2 linked regions of the Homo sapiens genome follow. The protein of the gene in region 2 purifies or fractionates together with the protein of the main gene of each other region. This does not show direct contact. Each region holds a gene or a part of one and is shown on either strand. Other genes may lie near its edges.

Evidence for each region.
Region 1: the proteins of GZMK (region 2) and IGSF21 purify together in Homo sapiens (affinity purification with mass spectrometry; one large-scale study listed by BioGRID and IntAct). This does not show direct contact.

The regions. Positions count from the first base shown.
Region 1 is NC_000001.11:18,369,609-18,373,441, reverse strand, and holds part of IGSF21 (immunoglobulin superfamily member 21 precursor), read right to left. Parts: intron 1-3,833. UniProt on the Homo sapiens protein: Involved in synaptic inhibition in the brain. Selectively regulates inhibitory presynaptic differentiation through interacting with presynaptic NRXN2.
Region 2 is NC_000005.10:55,030,756-55,034,588, reverse strand, and holds the end of GZMK (granzyme K precursor), read right to left. Parts: intron 3,226-3,833; coding exon 2,956-3,225; intron 825-2,955; coding exon 663-824; 3' UTR 19-662; downstream 1-18.

The sequences.
Region 1 (3,833 bases), on a different chromosome or scaffold from region 2:
CTCACTCCTTCCACCCTCAGCCTCCTGACACTCCGAGCCTGGCCCATTAGCAGCTCCAGACAATCAAAACCTACACCCCCTTGCCTGCTTCTAGACCACAATGGCTGAGAGTGCCCGAAAGGAATGCTCTTAGTCTCCGGACTTTCCTGCCTCTCAAGCCCTGGACGTAGAGAAAGAGCAGGAGTCCAGAGACCCAGGATTGACACCTAGCCCTCTACTTTCTGGCTGCATGACTTGGATGAGTCATTTCAACTTGTTGGGCTTCAGTTTTCTAACTTGTAAATGGGGAGAATAGGCTACCACCCTGCTTGAGGAAATACTCTGAAAATGACAATGGAGGAGGGAGATAAGACTGCAATGTGAAATGTAAAGTGATGTCTATCTGCTCAGGGAATGAAAAAGATCCTGGACATATAAGTTGCCTTCCTTACCTGTCCTGAGCATCCTGATGCAAGGATAGTACTGTGGAATCTCAAGGAAAAGCTCCTCTAAGTTTCCCCTAGGAATTCTGGATGCTTTCTAAGACAATCACTCACCCATTCACCCACTCATCCATCCATCCATCCATCCATCCACCCATCCATCCATCCATCCATCCATCCATCCATCCATCCATCCAAATATCCATCCTTCCAAACATCCATCTATTCATCCATCCCTCCAAACATCTATCCAAACATCCATTCATCCATCCATCCATTCATCCATCTAAACACTCATCCATCCATCCCTCCATCCACCCATCTAAACACTCATCCATCCATCCCTCCATCCACCCATCCAAACATCCATCCATCCATCCATCCATCTATCCATCCATCCAAACATCCACCCATTCATCCATCCCTCCAAACATCCATCCAAATATCCATCCATCCATCAAAACATCCATCCATCCATCCATCCATCCATCCATCCATCCATCCTTCCATCCATCCAAGCATTCATTTTATTCATTCATCTATTCAAACATCCAACAATCCATCCAAGTGCCTACCCATAAACCTACCAATTTGCTTACCCATCCATTTCTTCATTTGCTCTATCCATCTAATTCTTTATTGTACACCTAATTTGTGGTGGTCACTATTCCCGGTCACTGTTGGGGATACTATGATGAATAATAACAGTAGCTTATATTTCCTGAATATTTCCTCTGCCTGTCACTATAAGCACTTTGTATGCACTGCCTTACTTAATCTTCTCAACAACCTAGAAAAGCATTAATTAATTAACTATTAAACAGTTGTTTATTAAGAACTATGTTGGGGTTGTTCTGAGCCCTGTACTCTGTGAACTAGGCGGATAAAGAAGACCCTGCCCATGTGCCATTTAAATTCTAGTGGGTGATGGGAATGCGCAGAGTTTGGTTGAGGTGGTGGTTACACCAGCATTCACATTTATTAAAATCTGTCAAATTGTGCACTGAAGGACCTGCATTTCCCAATATGTAAATTTTATCACAGTTAAAACATATATGAAGAATGAATTGTTCAAGCCAGTTCACCTGACTGCCATTACATCTAAAACCAAATCTCAATTCCTACCTTGTGGGCGATTCAGACAATAAGCAAATATAGAATATACTTGTAGGTGGAAATGAGTTATGTAAGAAAACAAAGCAAGAGAAGGGGTGGAAGGAACCAGGAGGAAGAGGCTGCTTTAGATAGAGTGTTCAAGGAAGGACCCTCTGAGTAGAGGACTCGAGCAGAGGCCTCCTTCCAGTCAATTTCCATTCTTCATAGGCCAACACTGTTCCCATTTCTATCAATGGATATTTATTTTTTGTTCTAGAATTTCAAATAAATGGACTCACACAGTGAGTACTCTGTCATCTGGCTTCTTTTGATCAACATTTTTTTTTTTTTTTGAAATGGAGTCTTACTCTATTGCCTAGGCTGGAGTGCAGTGGCGCAATCTCAGCTCACTGCAACCTCCACCTCCCAGGTTCAAGGGATTCTCCTGCCTCAGCCTCCCAAGTAGTTGGGCCTACAGGCATGAGCTACCATACCCAGCTAATTTTTGTATTTTCAGTAGAGCCGAGGTTTCACCATGTTGGCCAGGCTGGTCTCAAACTCCCGGCTGCAAGTGATCCACCTGCCTCGGCCTCCCAAAGTTCTGAGATTGCAAGTGTAAGCCACCGTGCCCAGCCTGATCAACATGTTTTTGAGCTCCATCCATGCTAATGCAGGTATCATGAGTTCATTCATTTGTATTGATAAAAAGTATTTTGTTATATGAATATACTACAAATACGTTTATTCATTTTTCTAATTATGGACATTTAGATTATTTACAGTTCTGTTGTTTTTGCTGTTGCCATGAATAAAGCTGCTGTGGACATATGTTTTCATTTCTCTTGGGTAAATACCTAGGAGTGAAATCGTTGGGTCATAAGAACAGAAATATTTTTATCTTTGTAAGAAACTGCCAGTTTTTCAAAGTAGTAGTACCATTTTATTCTGCAGTCAGCAAAGCATGAGAATTCTGATTGTTCTACCTTCTTGTCAACATCTGGTATTGTCAGTTTTTAAAATTTTAGCCACTCTAATAGATGTGAAATGGTATCTCATGGAGGTTGGAATCTTCATTTCTCTAATAACTAATAATGTAGTGTAGGTTTTTACATGTTTATTAGCCATTTGTATATTTTCTTTTTTAAAAAATTGGGTAGTCTTTCATTATTGATTTGTCATAGTTCTTTATATATTCTGGTTACAAATGCTTTGTCAGATATATGTATTGAGAGTATTTTCTCTCATTCTATAGTTTGCTTTTCTTTTTTCTCAAGGATATCTTTGTAAGAGCAGAAGATTTAATTTTTGATTAAGTCCAATTTACCAAATTCAATTTATCATTTAGTTTTTATTTAGTTTTTATTTTGTGACCACTTTAAGAAACCTTTGTTACACAAATATCACAAAGGCTATGTTTTGTTCTAGAGGCTTCATGATGCTGACTTCTACTTTTAAATCTATGATTCATTTCAAATTAATTTTTGTGTGTGTGCGAGGCAGGGGTCCAGGTTTAATTTTTCCTTATGCCTATTCATTTGTTTCAGGGTCATTTTTTAAGAGAACTTCTCTTTCCTGATTGAACCGCCTTGGGGGTCTTTGGCAAAAATCAATGAACTCTGTGTATGTAGATCTATTTCTGGACTCTATCCTGTTTTGTCAATCTATTTGTCTACCACAGGAAGGTTTTGGGCGGGTGTCATGATCTGATTTATATTTTAAGTAGATCAATCGGGGTGGGAAATAGGATAGGGTGAAAGTGGAAGCAGAACGATCAGTTTGAAGGCTACTCTAATAACCCAGGCTTGAACTGATGGTGCTTGGGTTGGGTATTTGGAGAGGAGACCGTGAGGAGTGGCAGATTTGGGATATATTCTGAAGTTGAGCTGCCAGGGCTTAATGATGGTTTGCATGTGGGATAGGAGGGAAGAGTGGAAAAGGTGAGGGGTCTGCAAGGCTTCTGGTTTGATCAATGGGAAGGACATGGTTGCCATTTAGTGAGATGGGTGCCAGGACGCTCAGGCATCTGTGGTCCAGATTACGAGAAAGGTACAAATCTGGTGAGACAAGAACTGAGAAGAGGCACAAACAGCTCAAAGGGTTGGGGGAGAGTCAGAGAAATCTTCCTGGAGGGGTGGCATTTCAGCTGCGGAGGGCATCCCTGCAAGGGAAGAGGAGGAGCGAAGGCTCATTGCAGGGAGACACATCCCACCCTCGTTGGCCTGATCTTCAAAATCCTTGTTGAATGATTGGATTTTGTGCTCTGAGGTCATCTAATCCGTCCCACTGTCTCACCCAGAGTGCAGGGTGCCCTGATGG
Region 2 (3,833 bases):
AGAAATACTGTCCAAATATTTGTATAAGCTGCTTGCTTGAATTAGGATATTTATATTTATGATTTATATTTAAAAAATACAAACTCATAGAAGCTTAGAGTAGAATGGGGTTGCCAGAGGATGGGGGTGGTGGGGAAATAGAGAGCTGCTATTCAACTGGCATAAAGTTTCATTTATATGAGATGAAGCAGTTCTAGAGATCTGCACTGCAAGATCATGCCTATAGTTAACAATAATGTATCATACCCTTAAACATTTGTTGCAAGGGCCTATCTCATGTTCAATGTTATCACAACAATGAAAAGAAAACAACCCAACAACTTAGGATGATCCAGCAGAAGTTACACCTAGTTGAAGGTGGTACCATTACTGTTTTATTCAGTGACCTTATTGCCCTTTGGCGAGTGTGGGTGCAATGGGGGCAGATATTACTTCATGTGATAAAAGACAAACAGAGAGTCTTCTAAATTTTATTTAGAATAAAACCAGCATGGTAGAAATACATCAGTGATACAAGTGAAAAAGAACTTGATTCCTTAATAAAATGACTTACAAGTGCAAAAATGGACCCCATATGTGCTCTGCTTTACTTACACCCAACTCTAACCTGCGAGCATATTAGGAAAAAAGAAGCAAGTGCATCCAATAAAATTATTTGTAACTTAATTTGTATGAGGCGGGACAAGGTTGCTTTTGATCCAAGTCTGGTATTTCTTGGTTAACAGGGTGTAGATTCCAGGCTTTGTGGCAACACCACATTCATGACCTCCAGAGACTATAGCGTGGAAGACACCTTTACAGATCAAGGGGCCCCCTGAGTCACCCTGGAAGGAAGAAAAAGGGCAAATACGTGGTAAGAAGCTGTTGGGATATTTTTGTTTTTTAACCACCAACTGCTGATTGCTCAAGGGATTATCATCTGGGTCTTTGCTTTCTTTATGTCCAGAAGAGTGTCTGACACTGCCTCTTACTCGTTATAGGTTGTCCATGTGCCTGTCTCTGTCAAGGACTATGTTTCTGCCTACTTGCTTCTCTGTTTATGTCTCTATCTATGACTATGACTATGCCTCTGCCTCTGTCTCAGTGTCCATGTCTATATCTCTGTTTTGTCCCTATCTATGTCTACATTCCTCTGGGAATCAATGACTATTGACTATTTATTAAAGAATGGATAAAGTTTTAAATAATCCACTGAAATAAAATAATCTTTTAAAATTGTAGATTTCATTTTGATGCTCACAGACCTAAAATCGAGTTGTTATTGAGGCTAGCAGAAAAGAGCAATGTATTGTAGTAAATGTCTTCATGGCAGGAATTATATGTTCTCTGTTATTTATTTATTTTTTGCATCCTCACATGGTTGGACATAGTGTTATGTATATGTACCATACTTAGTAAATACTTAGTGAATGAAATGATTTTTGAAGACACTCTAACAGCAAAGCATGTAACTAAATTCTATCAAGTGAAGGGAAAGAGCTATAGAGGGGATGGCATGGCCTTTTGATGAAGAGCTGGCTTCTACATTTGAAGACCAGCCTTTCTCTTTGCTAATGTTCACATTGCAAACTGCAGTGCCTTATACTTTGGTCAACCATGATAACCGATGTTTAGGAGGGTGATGGTCTTGGGTACTGCAGATGCACAAGACATTTGAAGTCATCATATCCTCTCCCCCAATTATACTTAATATAGTATGAGATGAATACTGTATTCTAATTTTTAAAAAATTAGTAATTCATTTGTGCTATATATTAGTATAGTTCATACAAACATGAACACCTATTTTTTTCCTTACCATCTCAATAAACAAATGATTTTGAAAAACATAATGACTCTTGTTCCTTTTTTTCTTTTAAGACAGGGTCTCATTTTGTCACCCAGACTGGAATGCAGTGGCAAGATCTCGGCTCACTTCAGCCTCAACCTCCTGGGCTCAGGTGATCCTCCCCCCTCAGCCTCCTGAGTAGGTGGGACTACAGGCGTGTGCCACCACACCTGGCTAATTTTTGTATTTTTTGTAGAAACGGGTTTTCACCATATCGCCCAGGCTGGTCTCAAACTCCTGAGTTCAACAGATCCATCCACCTTGGCCTCCCAAAGTGCTGGGATTACAGGTGTGAGCCACCATGCCCGGCCTTTTGTTCCTTTTTGTTAGTCAGTGGTATGGTCTGAAAGTCTGATTCCTCCGAATTCATATGTTGCAATCCTCACTCCCAAGGTGAGAGTATTAGGAGGTGGTGATTTTGGGAAGTGATTAGGTCATGGAGGTGAAGGCTTCATGAATGAGATTAGTTCCCTTATTAAAGAGGCCTAAGAGAGACCCCTCACCCCATCTACCATGTGAGATTAGAGTGAAAAGAAGCTGTTTATGAACCAGAAAGTAGGCCCTCCCCAGACACCAAATGTGCTGGTGCCTTGATCTTGATCTTGAACAGAATAAAGTTCTGTTATTTATAAGCCACCGAGTTTATGGTATTTTGTGGTAGCAGCCCAAACAGACGAAGACAGTCAGTCAGCATTACTTATGAAACACATACTGTATATTTGAGCTTTTTGCATTTGAGTCTTTAAGGCCTCCTTATTGATTAATCTGCAAGGTGGTTCTTTAAATAAGTTATCTTCTAATCACCACTAGTGACTTCAGGGTTGGTAGACTTTGTAAGGAGGATAACACCTCTCATAGGAAGCCTGTAAAAGTTGTCAGATATGGTCTATTATCCTGATTAACAAACATTTAGTGGGTGCTTATAAAGTATTGGGGAAGTTTTTACAATCCATCCACATTGGTAGATGAAAAAGAATAGAGAATGCTGTGCAGGAATGAAGAGAAAGTGTTTAGAATTGTGGTTTTGTATTCTCCATGCCCCTCCCTCCTCCTCAGTGTCAGTGAGCAATAGAGGCTTGGCTACTGTACAGCGCTCCAAGATGCCTGTTTGAAAGAGAGATTCTTACCTTACAGGAATCCTTCTGGCCTTTGGCATCTCCTGCACAGACCATGTCTTTGGTGATAAAAGGGTCGCCGTTGTAGTAACTTTGGCTGTTGCAAAGTTTTCGACTTAGGACAGTAACAGTGACTTCTCGCAGGGTGTCAGAAGGTCTTAATGAATCTGGATCGGTGGCTCCCCAGCCAGTAACCTTGCATTTGGTTCCAGATCTAAGAGAGGTTTTGGATCTTATGTGGAGCATCTTGACATGTTTATTGAGTTTTGCGGCTGTTTGAAGCTGACAGATTGAAAAAAGATGGAATTATTTCTTTCCCAGTAGTATTCTGATGCTAGCCTGTGCGTCGTATGTGTGGTCCCTCTGTCTTAGGCGGGCGTCCCTGTTCTGGGATCTACTTTGGTGGTGGCCTGCAGCTGCATTTGTGGTTGTTGCTTTTCTGACCATGCTCTCTACTCCCCGAGGAGCTCACTGAGGCTTGGGGCGGGAGCTTATAGAGAGCAGGAATTTGTTCAGTCTCGAGCAAACTGGCCTTTGCCCTGCATTGGATGGTTTTGTGTGGAATAACATCCATAGGTCATGACTTTGAGGGCTGGGCTGCTTCCTGCCGGATAGGACCCTTGAGTATGGTCTAGACCAAGTTCGGACTAAATTAAGTGTGGTCTAGACTAAGCTGTAACTCACTGCTGAGCCCCCGAAGTCACTTGGTTGGCTCTGTTGTATAAACAACTGTTGTATTTTTTTACTTGCTAATGAGAAAAGCATTTGGGAGAAAAGCTTTCAGTGTGGATCCTTGGGCCTGTTAAGATGTTCCCCTCCTACATATGTTGAGTATCAGAGTTGCTTTTCCTTGTATAAACACAGCCCTGGTGCATTTGTGATAAATTCTT